2 separate regions of the Homo sapiens genome follow, and region 2 is linked to region 1. Evidence: fine-mapped expression QTL. Tissue or cell type: lymphoblastoid cells. Region 1 holds a variant in brackets; the other region holds the start of a gene. All regions are shown on one strand. Distances are from middle to middle.

Evidence for each region. PIP is the estimated chance that this variant, and not a neighbour inherited with it, causes the effect.
Region 2: DAAM1 starts here. The variant in region 1 is fine-mapped to the expression of DAAM1 in lymphoblastoid cells (GENCORD, PIP 0.95).

The regions. Positions count from the first base shown.
Region 1 is chr14:59,219,528-59,223,781 of GRCh38, forward strand. All of the region lies in intron 1 of DAAM1 (dishevelled associated activator of morphogenesis 1), which reads left to right. Among named protein-coding and RNA genes, the nearest start is that of DAAM1, 33 kb to the left of the region's middle. RefSeq lists a silencer at 864-1,158. The variant G/A (reference allele first, on the strand shown) is at 2,575.
Region 2 is chr14:59,186,127-59,190,380 of GRCh38, forward strand. DAAM1 (dishevelled associated activator of morphogenesis 1) reads left to right here and starts at 2,541. Exons shown (of 25, transcript NM_001270520.2): 1 at 2,541-2,642. RefSeq lists enhancers at 2,044-2,283, 3,064-3,823, 3,534-3,693, 4,124-4,173 and silencers at 2,754-2,893, 2,954-3,173.

The sequences.
Region 1 (4,254 bases):
TTCATATCTGCTTATAATTGGTGGTGCTTTTTTCTTAGTCCATGGTAAATTTGTATGTAGACTATTATACGGTACTCTTTCCTCCAAGAGTAAAGTCTAGAAAACTGGAATTTCTGCTTTCTAGAATTGGATCTTAGGTATAGTCAAGACTTAGTGCCAGTGTCTTTCATATGTTCATAAACATCATATAAACATGCAATACTTGATTTGAACATGAGCTTGGCCAACCTGTGTTTTGAGTCCTTCAGCCTTTCCTTATTTCTTGTCTTCTTACTGTAGGATCCTGCTTGTCTAATATCCCTTTGGTGTCTGCTCCTTTGCCTTGAGGACTTTGGTGCCACTTCTGGACATGCCTTTATTCATTCTTAGCTGTGGTCCAACATCTTGCTCCAAAGGCTCACATTTACCTTGTCTGGGTGCCAGCTATAGATTATGTTTGAATTCAAGAGTGGTTCCTGCTATGGATGTAGCTATTGGTTTCGAAAAATACAGATTTTTTTTTTCCAGGATGGCATCCATTGCCTGTCACTGAACTACAGTGAAAAGTGTTGTTTTGGTTTCAGTTCTTGATTTTAAGCATTTGACCAAATTTCAAGGTCTCTCATCCCAAGATTTTGTTTTGCCAGAAGCTTCTGGCAGGAAATAGAATGATAAAGGAAGAGATACACAGAAGTCAGAGAATTGGCGGCTCTATTCTCAGGTGTAATGGAACTTAATTAAACTTTAAGCTCCTAAAAGGCAAGGGTGATATGTTTTACTTTGTTACCTATACTTAACCTATAAGTGGCACATGGATTAACTCTAGAGCAAACATGCTCTATGTTTGCTGAGTGGATTGTTGTTTGGTCTTATTTTTGCCAACATTTAAGGGAGGTAGAAGTTAAATATTCTGTATTAGAAATAAGTTTTGCCTAGTTTTGAAGAATGAACTGGCTTATGACATGGTTTCCTCAATAGCCACAATTATTGCCCCAACAATACTTACTTTATTAGTCTTTGTTTTCTCAAGGAAACAGGACCAATAGGAAATCTGTCAAGGGGATTTATTGTAGGAAGGCCAAGGAGTCCCGCCATCTGCCATCTGCAAGCTGGAGAACTAGGGAAGGTGATGGTGTAATTTAGCTGGGTCTAAAGGCCTGAGGACCAGGAGAGCCAATAGCCAATGGTGGTGCTGGCAGAGGGGGATGGGGATGACTTACTGCTGGTGTGAGTACCAGAGCCAAAGACCTAAGAACTAGGGGATCTCCAGTGTGCAATGGAAGGAGAGGATAGATGTTTCAGCTCTAGGAGAGTGAATTCACCCTTCCTCTGCCTTTTTGTTCTACCTGGGCCCTAAACCGATTGGATGATGCCCACGCACATTGGTGAGAGAGGATCTTTCCTGAATCTACAGATTAAATGCTAATCTCTTCTAGAAACACTCTCACAGACACACCCACAAATAATGTTCTACCAGCTATCTGGGTACCCTTTAACCCAGTCAAATTACACAAGTCTACCTTGTCAACTTAACATCCATACACATCCCCTTAAACCATACCTAACCTCCAAATAAAGACAATGACAAGGTCATAATTCCACCTATCAAGGTACAATGATCCTGTGTACAACTGAAAGTGCACTTATCCCTTCTCTGGAAGTGGAGGTGAAGTCCTTGAGTGATGTTTACTCCTCTCCTGAGACTCTGTAACTTAAATAGTATAGAAAATTATCATTACTGAAATACTGACATAAAGTCATTAACATCTTGTGTGATAAGGGAATAAGAGAGGAAGGAAAACAAGGATATTTACTTAATATATGTTTATATACACACAAACGTATTCATAACAAAATAGGGAGGAAATACTCATGGTAATTACAATCTTCCTTTCTGTAACTGGTCACATGGTCACAGATGGTATCATAACTAGCTTTCCTACTACTCATTCTGTATTCCCTTTGCCTTCAGCTGGTTATGATTCTTTATCTGGTCGGGTGGCTTAAACCTTCATTTCTGAAGGGTCTGGATCATTGGCAGTTCTGCCTGGATTGGGTTGTTGTCATTTTTCATTGGCCTTAGTTGCTGGGCATGGTAATACTAAGAGAAGCTCTAAACGATCTCTTGTATTCCAGACATACTTTTCCTTACCTCCACTGTGGAATAGTAGTCCAGTTTCTTCTTGGTAATCTGGATGGGTCACTCCAGCCAACACTGTAACTCCTTTCTTGTCCTGCTGACTCAGAGGCATGAGGAGCCCAAAGTGGCCTGATGTCCTTAACTTGCATTTCAATGGAATTATTGTTGTGTCTCCTGCTGGAAGCATTCTTCCCTCTGGAACTAAGGCCAGCAGAGCATAAAGTTGTGGGAATAGGAAGCAAACATTTTGCCAGTGACCCACTAGGCGTAATGGTGAGTGGTGCCACCCACTCCCATTTCCACTCCTGATTCCTATACCTGTGAATCTTGGCTGTCAGAGAAGCACTACCATATAGCAGATGCTGATTCAGAGCATATACAGTCTTCTGGCTAACCTTGCTCCAAGCCCTGCAAGGTGTTGTCAGCTACGTAGCATGTAACTGAGTCTTCAGAAG[G/A]TTGTTCCATTGTACAATCAAATCAGCTACTTCAGGATGGTGCTTTATGATGGTAGGGAACATGGTAAGACTATTGAATTCCGTGAGTTCGGGCCCCTTTCCTCATTTTGTGGTCTGTGAAGTGAGTTGCTTGGTCAGAAGCAATGCTTCTTATTCACTATGATGGTGAATAGGGCATTCTGGAAGTCCATGGTTGGTGATTTTGGCAGAGGCATTGCATGCAGGAAAGGCGAATTCATCTCCAGAGTCAATGTCCATTCCAGTAAGGATAAAACACTGTGCCTTCCTTGATGGAAGAGGTCCAGTGTAATCAACCTGCCACCAGTTAGCTGGCTGATGACCCTGGGGAATGGTGCCATAAAGGGGGCTCAGTGTTGGTCTTTGCTGCTGGCAGATTGGGCACTCAGCAGTGGCTGTAGCCAGGTCAGCCTTGGCGAGTTGAAGTCTGTGTTGCTGAGCCCATGCCTAACCTCCATCCCTGCCACCATAGCCACTTTGTTCATGAGCCACTGGGCGATGACAAGTGGCTGGGAAAAGAGGCTGACTGGCATCCATAGAATAGGTCATTCTATCCACTTGAAATCCTCCTCTGCTGAAGGTTACTCTTTGGTAAGCATTCACATAGGAAACTAATATCTTCATGTTTTTAGCCCATTCAGAATGGTCTGTCAACATACTTCTCCCCCAGATTTCTTTGTGACCGATTTTCCAATCATGTCTGTGGACATCCAGCCATGCCATTGGCTACAGCCCATGAATTGGGTATATAATTGCATGTCTGGCCATTTCTTCTTTCAAGCAAAGTGCACAACCAGGTGGACTGCTGAAGTTCTGCCCACTGGGAGGATTTCCCTTCACCACTGTCCTTTGAGGATGTCACAGGGAACGGCTATAATACTGCAACTGTCCACTTTCAGGTGGTGCCTGCATGTAGTGCAGAATCATCTGCAAACTAGGCCCAAGTCTTCTCTTCCTGTGTCAGCTGATTGTAGGGAATTGCCCATGAGGCCATAGGTGCAGGCTGGGACTAGAGAAGACAGTGTAGCAGGAGTGGGGACTGTGGGCATTTGAGCCATGATGACATTTAACTTACTTGTGCCTTCAGGATCTGCTTTCGCCTGATCGTGTATATACCACTTCCATTTGATGATGGAGTGCTGCTGTGCATGCCCAGCTTTGTGGCTTGGTTGATCATATAATACCCAATTCATGATGGGCAGTTTGGGTCATATGGTAACTTGGTAGCCCATGATTAAGTGCTCATTTTCTACCAAGGCCCAGCCCAAGAGCTGTCTCTCAGAAGGAGGGTAGCCATCTGTAGGTGATGGCAACACCTTATTGTAAAATCCTAAAAGCCGGTGCTGCAATTCATTTGTAGGATCCTGCTGAAGAGTCTAAATGGCATCTATGTCTGCCACTGATAGACACTTCAGGCAATGTTGGAATCTGCTGGATCATATGGCCCCAGTGGAAGAGCAACTTGCACGGAAGCCTGGATCTATTGCAGAGCTTTATCCCATTCTGGGCCTCATTCAAAACTAGCAGCTCTTTGGGTCACTCAGTAAGTGGGCTAGAGTAACACGCCCAAATGCAGAATATGTTGCCTCCAAAATCCAGATGGGTCCACTAGTCATTGCACTTTTTGATGGTAGGAGGGGCCAAATATAACAACTTGTACTT
Region 2 (4,254 bases), 33 kb before region 1:
GGCTTTTCATAAGGTCTTCAGAACAGCAGCAGTTATGTAAAATGAAAAGATAGAAAGTAAAGAAACCCATTTTGACTGAGAATATCAATTAGCTAGACAGAGTGGGTGTTTTTGATGATTTATGAGACTACTTGGCCACCTAGAAAAAATTAAATGCAAACATACACAATGATTGTGTATGAAAGTGAGTGAGAGAGAGTGTGTGTGTGAGTTTCCTTCTGTCTCCAAAGAAGTGGTTAAGCCTCCTCTGCTGCTAGTTCTACAGACTGTATTTCTCATGTTAAAGAGCCATCTTTGTTTCCCTTGGTTACCAATGAAACTGTGCAGGGATCAGTTCAAATCCATCACCACTTGCAGATAATTTTTCCAAACACAATGCCCTCTTTCTACATCTATTATCTATATTTATAGCTATTAGATAGGAAGAGCAGTTCACATGTGCATTTCTCCACATTTATGTGCTTACAGTCTATTGTGTATGCTGTCCTTTATATGGAGATGACTATGTCACATGGCACATCCCTATAATATTGTTAAAGAGAATGGAATTTTTGTTTTCAGACAGACTGCATCTTCTCCTTCATTACTGAAGAGCCAAGAGAACTTGTTGTAAGGTGATTTCTCCATTAAAATTACTCCTCAGAGTGTGCCTCAGTAACATACTTTTATCTACAAGGATAAGCCCTGTCTTAACAGAAAGGCTCCACATTCAATTTATTGACTCAATAAATTTCAGGCTCACTGATTATGTTTCAGTCTAAAAGCTTTACACAGTTATAAAATTAGAAGAGCCTTTAGAATCATCCCAGGTCAAGTTTCTCTCTGAATATTTTTCCACCATGAACTGCGTTACATTAAGTCTACCCATTAGTTAGAATATCAGTGATTATATCCTTGATCTGATGGCCAGGGGAAAATTTATATTGTCAGAGTTCATTTTAGATAATATTTGAAATGGAAGAAGTAGCTGAGGACAGAAGAGCAACATTCAAAGCTATCTTCTTTCGGGGGAGAAAAGTGGGTCTTGTCTATAAAGAACAGGCTTGTTAAAAGAACATCAGAATTCATCGCTAAACATCTCTCTGAGCAAAACAAAGCATTTCCTCTCCCCTGAGATCCTCAACTAATTTCATAAATATTTTTTCACTTGAACCCAACTTAGTGTTGCAGAATGAAAGGAGAAAATAAATGATAAGAGTTCCACCAACACTTCAGTAGGGAGTTGTCTGAAATCTTAATTGTGAACCTTTTTTTCACAAGATGCACAGTCTTCTAGAGATTTTGCTAGTGGAACGGGTGTGTGAGCTGATCATTATATGGAATTGAGACACATCAAATGCCATTAAAATTTACATTTACAACTCGAGTAACTAAATGCATTGATTCTTTTCATATTAAAAGACACTTGGTATTCACTGAATAATGAAAAATGCCACGGAAAAAATTATGTATTAACAATACAACCTGCCTAAAGGGTCAGAATTCTGCTACACACCTTTTGCTTACCTTTAAATAAATATTTAGGTGTGTTAAGAGCAGGGCAATTCTTGAACGGCACGATGTTGTTTGGTTTAATGTCTTTATAAAAATATTTGAAAAGGTATGGAAAATGAGGTGAGAGTGTTGTGGATTTAAAAACATGTGTATACATAGATACACAATTATTAAAACTTTAGACAAGGACGTTTTCTTCCTGGGAGTGGAGAGCCACCAGCGCGGGAAGTCTGCTGCAGGGATGAACAAAAGCATGGCTGCACGATAGTATTATCTTTGCAGCAGCAGCAGGCGCCCTGACGGAGGGTTGCGGCGACTGTCTAGTCTATCACACCGCACTTCTGGTAGTGACAACCTCCGTTATTCTGTCAGCTCAGCCGACTAAGTGGTTCCCCGCGTTCTGCCTGGTCACCTTGTCTCCGTTAAACGGGAAGCAGAAAAGAGAAAGGTGAATTGAGGGGGTACAAGGAGATTCCTCCGCCTTGGGACCGGCGTCGCCCCATCCTCTGGAAGTGTTGAGCGGGGAGAATTCGAGGACCGTATTTAACCCAGAAAACAGTAAGCCCTCTGAATTAGCTGCTACGCCTGGGGAAGGCAGAAAAGTCTTAATCGTCCCTTCCCAGCAGGGACCAAGAAAGACCAGTTAGAGCGAGCCTGGCCGGACCACGCGAGCCCCGGACCTCTCCGATCCTTCAGAGCCCGCGCCGGGCAAAGTAGAGGTCAAGTCAACACACACGACCGCAGGGCAGCCCTCCCACTCTCCCGTGCGGTCCGCAGCTCGGCTTCGGAACGACCACCGCTAACACTGCAAGGCTGTAAGGCTGGGAGGGGGCGGGTCCTGAAGGGGGCGGGAATAAGAGGCGGGGCAGAAGGGCGGAGGAGTGTGTCGGGAGATGTAGTTCCGCGAGTCCCGACAGCAAAGCTGTCCCGGCTCCGCTAATAGATTGGGACCACTACTCCCAGGAGTCTGCGCGCCCGACCGGAGCGTCCATGCGCAGTGGGAGCCACTTTGTATCCTATCAGGCGAGGAGAGGGTGATGTCACCTGCGAGTTAGTAACCTACGAGCGGCTGTGAAGGAAACTGTTTAACCGGATCCCATTGTACCCAGAGTGCAGAGCCGCCTTTCCAGCATGCAGGGGCTGCTCAGGTAAGGGGGACGCTCCTCCTTGCCCGCCGCACTCATTCATTAAGTGGCACTGCTCAGTGGTGCGGGGGTGGGCGTGCTTCCGTGGGCTGGGCGCTGGGTTCGCGGCGCGCCCTCCTGCTGCCTCCCCGGAGCTCCCGGGCCAGTAGGTAAATATTAAACCCGTCCTTCAGGTTGGGTCTGGGTGGGAACGGGACCGAGACAGCTCTCGGCTGCCTAGCTGGGGGTGGGAAAATGGCTGCAGCGCAACGCAAACCGAGGCAGCAGGGAGGAAGACGCCCCCAAGGACTGGGGTCCCTCCCTTTCTTTCTAAGGCGCCCGGCTGGCCGAGGAGCTGGCGGGGTAACACTCGCCGCCTTGCTGAAGGCTCCCCGGGGCTGGGGCCGCGGGTACTGCAGCGGCGTCCGCGAGCTCCCGGCCCGGCGGCTCCGAGAGGGAGAACCCCGAGGCAGGCTTGGTGGACACGGCGGTGGCGACAGGGAAGGAGGGACTCGTGTACCCGTTCGCGTCCGAGCAGAGCCCCCAGTGCCCCTGGCACCCTCACTTCCAGCCCCATTCGAAAGGGACGGAGCGCCTGTAATTCAGACTAAGTTGGACCTAAATGTTTCAAAACAGAGAGAAGGGAAATCGGGCGTTGCGGAGGGAGAGCAGGGTGTTGGCGGCCGGGGAGGCTGCGCCGCCTGCGGACCCGGTTGTGAGGCACCGCAGAGGGCTTTTGCCGCCCGTCCCTCTCGGGAGGGCGCATCTCAGTCTCCACGGTCCCTTGGTGTAGAGCACCTGGGCTGGGGCGAAGCGCCTGCCCTGAAGCCCTGGGCCAGGAGGTGGTAGCGCGGGGGTGGAGGTGTCGGATAATCTAATGATTAGGCTCGCTGTGGGGCAGGAGGGCTGGATAATCGGGTTTACCCAGCTGGTTCTGAAAGCCAACTGCTTGTGATCGGCTTGCCCTCTGAGTGGAGACGTGCAGGAGGCCCAGAGCTCTCAGTCCTCTGGATGTTCTTTGCCTTTCCTAGTACCTTCATTTGTTCGTTTACTCATTCATCAAACCCTGCTAAGGTCTCAAGTTGTTCACGGCCTGGCTTTGCGGAGCTACCTCTCGCCCCATAACATATTTAGTGATGCCTGAACTCCATTCCCCTCTCCTTCATCTCCACTTTCTGGAGAGCATCAAGAGCAAATGCCACCGTGACCGTTTTGCTGGTAGTTTCTTGAGATTCGAGCAGGACCCAGTGAATCGAAGCGGAGTTGCCTGCAAGATGAATCCCGTTGCCATGGCGACTCCTGCCTTCGGAATCTTAGCCGCTGCCACTGCTGTTTCGATTCGATGTGGCTCTGCGGGCAGCTGGGAGGGAGTGGCTAGTGGGTGTGGTCAAACGCTCGCCCTGGCCCAGCTGCTCTCTCCTCCTCGCCCCTTTCACAGCCCCGGGACTCTCCCCTTTCTCTCCTAAATAGCTTGGACACAGTTCTAAACCCCTTTCCCTTCCCCGTGCCACACCTCATCACGCCACCTCTCTCCCTGAAACTAATTGTTTGGCGCCTTTTTCCTGAGGCAAACTCTGAAAATTATAATTTGAAAAATCTCTTCCCCCTTTCGGGCTAGCCGCATCATTTCCCCAAT